2 separate regions of the Homo sapiens genome follow, and region 1 is linked to region 2. The links come from fine-mapping of genetic effects on gene expression. A gene starts in region 2. The other region holds a variant in brackets. All regions are shown on one strand. Distances are between the middles of the regions.

Region 1 (2,914 bases), 65 kb after region 2:
GGACCCCTGGGCATAAGCTGTGGCTAAGTACCCCTGGATGTCCTCCTCATCCATACCATGCAGCAGGAAGTCCACCCCATGACAGACCATGCAGCAGGAGCCAGAAGACAGTAAAATGCACCAAGCAGAACTAGGAAGTGTCCTTTCTGCAGTGTTGCTTCAGTGCCCTGTACTGACAAAGCATAACATTGTACTCACTGTAAAGAGGAAATGCCTGCAAACTCCAGGCCTTTATTGCAGTGCAGGTACCGAAGGATGAATTCAGAGCGGAGAGGCAACATATTGATAATTGGCCTAGTCCATCAGATCATGTTATTGATTCCACAGTAGTTCCCTGTTTTAAGACAAGTAAATATTCAAAGCTGTAGACAGGTCCTCTACTTCTTTGACCTCATACTACTATCTTCCTCTTGGCTCTGCTGCAGCCATCCAGGCCTTTCTCCTGTTTCTGGAACATATCTGCATGCTCCCGACTTAGGACCCTTGCTGGTCCCTCTTCCTGGAAGCTATTTTCCTAGCTGTCTGCATGGTGAGTTCCTCATTTTTTTCAAGTCTTGCTCAGATGTCAGTTTCTCAAGAAGGCCTGCCCTTTACGCGCTTATTTGCTACTCTAAGTCCCCTGAACTCCTTACCTCTTCACATGGCTTGACTTTTTCCACAGTACTTTTCACCCAACATACTATATAATTTACTTATTTATCATGTCTGTCTCCTCCCACGATAACATCAGGCGCCAGGACGGTATGAGGGGCAGGAGTTTTTTAATGTTGCTCACTTATTGCAGATACCTAAAATAGTGCCTAGTGCATTATAGGTGCTTAATAAATACTTAAATATTGTAACAGTCTCTATGATGTTCATTAAAGGTGAGATTCTACCTTCAAACAATTTTCATTTTATTATTCAAAATATTTTTACTACTTCTGCATTACACAACTTCCCTTTATTTTCTGGACTGGTTACATTCTTTTGACTGATTAGGTCAAGATGGGTACATTTTTTGTCTTGTGCTCCATATAATGAAATAGGGTTTGTATTTTATGTTACGTTCTTTACATCATTTTTCAGCTTCTGTGACTTTTCTCATCTGAGTAGATGACTGAGACAGATAACTATTTTTAATATTATATTTTTTAGAATTAAATCTTAGTTCGTGGAAAGTTAACTGATTGTTTTTAATTTTATTTTTAGGTGCTGAATGTGGAGTAAATGCAGATGTTGAGAAACATCTTGAATTGGGCAAGAAATTACTTGCAGCTGGACAGCTAGCTGATGCTTTATCTCAGTTTCATGCTGCCGTAGGTTTGTATCATGGAACCAAATCACTCAGTGTCTGTCTTAGTGAATTCTAGTAATAGCTCTTTTTTTAAAAATAACATTTAAAATAAAC[A/G]TTATTTCATGTTTAAATAAAACATTTAAATATATTTGTGGGATTCTGAGCGAAATAGATGGATAAAATAAATATATAACACTTAAATGTATGTGCATCTAACATGAGAGAAGTTTGAAGGTTAGTGAGGCCTGCTACTACCAAGGATAACTCAAGATATTTCTGACAAACAGCTTTTCTCAGTGTATTATTTGGCTTCTGACTTTTTTTTTTTTTTTTTTTTTTTGAGACGGAGTCTCGCTCTGTCGCTGTCGCCCAGGCTGGAGTGCAGTGGCACGATCTTGGCTCACTGAAAGCTCTGCCTCCCGGGTTCATACCATTCTCCTGCCTCAGCCTCCCGAGTAGCTGGGACTACACGCGCCCACCACCACTCCCGGCTAATTTTTTGTATTTTTAGTAGAGACGGGGTTTCACCATATTAGCCAGGATGGTCTCCATCTCCTGACCTCGTGATCCGCCCGCCTCGGCCTCCCAAAGTGCTGGGATTACAGGCGTGAGCCACTGCGCCCGGCCAGCTTCTGACTTTTTGAACAGATTTTACTGAATGCAGTTTAATTTTCTTGATGACTTGGGTTTTCAATATGTTCACTTGATATCCTTGGGAGATGCTGCAGTTCATTGCCTCTTCAGTATTGGTCAGACCCCAGCTGCTCTTCATTTATACTGTTGCTTCTTATTTCTTACTCATGTCTGTCTGTAGAATCAACTGTCGTGCAGCTGCTCATCTGTTAGGACTGTAAGAAGTGAGATGACCAGAATAAATAGGTTCTTAGTGAAGGCTTAATGGATTTTCTCTCCTTTTCTTTTCTTTTTTTTTTTTTTTGCTTTTTTGAGACAGAGCCTTGCTCTGTCACCCAGGCTGGAGTGCATTGGTGTGATTATGGTGATTATGGCTTACTGCAGCCTCAGCCTCCTGAATAGCTGGGATTATAGGTGTGTGCCACTATATCCAACTACTTTTTACAACTTTTATTTTTTATATTTTTGTAGAGATGGGGTCTCACTATGTTGTCCAGGCTGGTCTGAAACTCGTGGGCTCAAGCAGTCCTCCTGCCTTGGCCTCCTAGAGTGTTGAGATTGTATGCATGAGCCACCACATCTGGCATGGATTTCCTTATGAGTCACTGCTAAACTTTTGTACTGGGACTTTTTGAACTTTCCTCAGAGTTCTTTACTTATATATTTTTACCTTGATTTGAATGGTTGAGAGTGTGTAGTTAACAACCGAGGGTGGTGTTTTGTTTTGTTTTGTTTTGTTTTTGTTTTTGTTTTTGTTTTTGAGACAGGATCTTGCTCTGTCATCCAGGCTGGAGTGCAGTCACGTGATCTTGGCTCACTGCAACCTCTGCCTCCTGGGCTCAGGTGATCCTCCCACCTCAGCCTCCTGAGTAGCTAGGACTACAGCTGCATGCCATCATGCCCAGCTAATTTTTGTATTTTTTTTTAATAGAAACTGGGTTTCACCATTTTGCCCAGCCTGTCTCAAACTCTTGTTCTCAAGCCATCTGCCTGCCTCAGCCTCCC
Region 2 (2,845 bases):
CATGCAAAAACATCCAGGAAATAAAACACGCACTTCATATGGTTTCAAATAAACCATATGTCCAAGTTAATTGGCCTTTATTCCCTGCAACCAGGCATAAAAAGTGCTAAAGACATAAATAGTTTCAAAGTTTGATTCTGTCACTTACTTGCTCCCTGATCTAGAACAAATTGTCAGCTCTAAGACTTAGCTTCCTCCATCTGTTTAAGAGCATCAAGACACCGACCTGGCAGGTCTGTAGATTCTGGACTCCATCCACTGGGCTGCAGGATCAGCGGGAACAAGAGCTGTGGTCTCTCTTGCTCAAGTATACGTCCCTAGAACCTAGCAGAGGACAGGCACGGAGAAGGCGTTCAGAATTTGCTGAATGGACACGTGAATGAAGAACGATCGAATGACTTAGGCGCTTAGTTAAGGAAACATCAGCTCCTGGCCCTTTATCCCTCCTATTTTTGCTGCCTCTGGCCTGTTAGAACGATTAACCCATGATCTGGGCCAAGGGCTTCAGAGCTGAACGTGGGGGTGGCCCGCGCGCCCCCGCTGAGATCTGGGCGCAGAGGCCTGCGGGCCCGAGGTACCCATCTCCGTTGGCCGCCACACTCCATCGTGGGGCGTCGTGCCGCTGACCACCCCTTTCCCCTTGCGTGGATCTCGGTCACAAGATGGCCGGAACAGGAAAGAAGGGGGCATGCTTTCCCGTTCCCTCCCTCCCCCATCCCGGGCAGGGCCCCCAGCCTTGCGCGGCGCCTCAAGTCCCAGGCGCATGGCACCGCCGGGCAGCCGAACCAGCAGACAAAAGCCGAGAGACGCGGGTTCCAGGGGAACCTCGGCGCCCTTCCTTGGAAGGCAAACAGGCAGTGGGGGCAGCGGCGGCTACTCCAGCTGGATCTGCAGAGGCTCGGCTCGCAGCCTGGAGAGGCAGGAGGGCCGGCTTCGCGGGTATCGGGATGCCCCGTCAGCCACCTCCTGTGGGCGCCTGGCGCATCCCCGGTCTCGGCTCACCCCAGCTGCGCGCTCCTGGGCGGGTGCCGGGCGCTGCAGGCGGGCGGGGGCGACACAGGGGACCCAGACCCCAGGGTCGCTGCTGACGCGGGCCGGGCCCGCGGAGGCCGAGGAGCAGCAAAGCGGAGAGAGGCAGGCCGGCTCCTTCTTGCAGGGCGCAGGATGAAACGTGTCTGGTCTGGGCAAGTTGTGGCGAGGCGGGTCGACTGGCGCCGCTCTAGGGCCTTCCAGACTCCGGACCACGGACGACTCAGGATACCCCACCCCCCTCCCGCCCCCTCCCCTCCGCGATCTCCCTCCGGCCTCTTCCCTCGGTGTCCCGGCTCCTCTGGCAACTGGGCGGGACCGCGAGCGTCTAGACCGCAGCGCTAAAATGCGCTCAGCCAATCCGGCAGCTGGCGCAGACACGTGGTTCGGGGGCGCGCTCCGTTGCTGGCCCTGGATGCTAACCCTAGGAAGGCTTTTCAAAGAGAAACCAGATTCGCTCCTACCCGGTTGTTGGTCTGGCCCTCAGCAAGCTAATTTCCCAGAGGAGCTTCAGGTGAATTATCTTCCAAAAAGAGATGCGTTTTAATCGCAGAAGTCTGCAGATGCGAAGGACCTTGAAAAGGCTATCTAATGTGGCCCTGCATTTGAGTGACGTGGAAAACCGAGATTAGGGACTTTTCACCAAAGCCCTCTAGGATTTAAACCCACGTAGGTTTCTGCGTCTCTTTCCGTTATGCCCACTTCAGGATGAAAGGCACGGATCTTTGTTGGTAGAAAGTTAGGCACTGAATTACAGGAGATGTGGGTCCGGAGTAGTGTGCTCATTTATGTAACCTAAAATTGGAACACGTGGGACAAAAGTCAGTATTTTTAAGTAACAAGTAATCCAGAACGTATGTATATACCATCATGAGAAATGAAGGCATCTTTTGCAAAACCTAAGTGTCTAATGCAGCTATATATATATATATATATAATATATATATATATGTTTTTAAATTAGAGAGGAGTAGCTGCAGAACTTTTACTGGACCAACATGCCGTTGTAAAAGTGCCTTTCCTTGTGCTTCTCCCTGACAGAATCAACTTTGTACCATACTTTAGCACAAGGCTTCAAACATAGCAACAGCTAAATATGTATTTATGTTGAATTCCTTGCTTTAGTTTTATTTGAAGCCATAAGGCCAAGATGACCATGATGGGATTTTAAATTGGTCTAATTTTAAAATTATTTTGAAAGAAAATTCAAGATCTCTATAAAAATCCTCTAAGTACTATGGGGAAAGATTTCTAGATAGAAATTTCAGACAATAGGCCGAGCGCAGTGGCTGACGCCTGTAATCCCAGCACTTTGGGAGTCCGAGGCGGGTGTATCACGAGGTCAGGAAATCGAGACCATCATGGCTAACACGGTGAAACGCCGTCTCTATTAAAAATACAAAAAATTAGCCGGGCATGGTGGTGGGCACCTGTAGTCCCAGCTACTCGGGAGGCTGAGGCAGGAGAATGGCGTGAACCTGGGAGGCGGAGCTTGCAGTGAGCCGAGATCGCGCCACTGCACTCCAGCCTGGGCGAGAGAGCGAGGCTCCGTTTCAAAAAAAAAAAAAAGAAAAAAGAAAAGAAAAGAAAAAGAAAGAAAGAAAAAAAAAGAAAGGAATTTCAGACAATATGAGATAGATAGGACCATTGCTCTGCAAAATCCGGTTTTTGCAAACTCGGTAGCTGTCTGTGTGTGTGTGTGAGAGAGAGAGAGAGATGATTGCTTAATTAATATTATTTGTTGACATACCATTTGAGTTACATGTATTTCCCATCCCCACTGTCAGTATATTACCCTACAGGTGTAGAATTGGAA

Direction of the effects. Alleles are on the strand shown, and positions count from the first base shown. SD is a standard deviation of normalised expression in the study named.
With allele A in place of G in region 1, the expression in lymphoblastoid cells of the gene that starts at base 1,332 in region 2 is lower (moderate effect, 0.56 SD a copy in GTEx).

Evidence for each region. PIP is the estimated chance that this variant, and not a neighbour inherited with it, causes the effect. A credible set is the group of variants that fine-mapping cannot tell apart.
Region 1: its variant is the best candidate, but not a certain one, in a credible set for the expression of DZIP1 in lymphoblastoid cells (GTEx, PIP 0.71).

What each region holds. Positions count from the first base shown.
Region 1 is chr13:95,708,036-95,710,949 of GRCh38, forward strand. DNAJC3 (DnaJ heat shock protein family (Hsp40) member C3) reads left to right here. Exons shown (of 12, transcript NM_006260.5): 2 at 1,192-1,302. Among named protein-coding and RNA genes, the nearest start is that of DNAJC3, 32 kb to the left of the region's middle. The variant A/G (reference allele first, on the strand shown) is at 1,391.
Region 2 is chr13:95,643,375-95,646,219 of GRCh38, forward strand. DZIP1 (DAZ interacting zinc finger protein 1) reads right to left here and starts at 1,332. Exons shown (of 23, transcript NM_198968.4): 1 at 1,003-1,332; 2 at 227-324. RefSeq lists silencers at 945-1,054, 1,115-1,204, 1,295-1,404 and an enhancer at 1,495-1,544.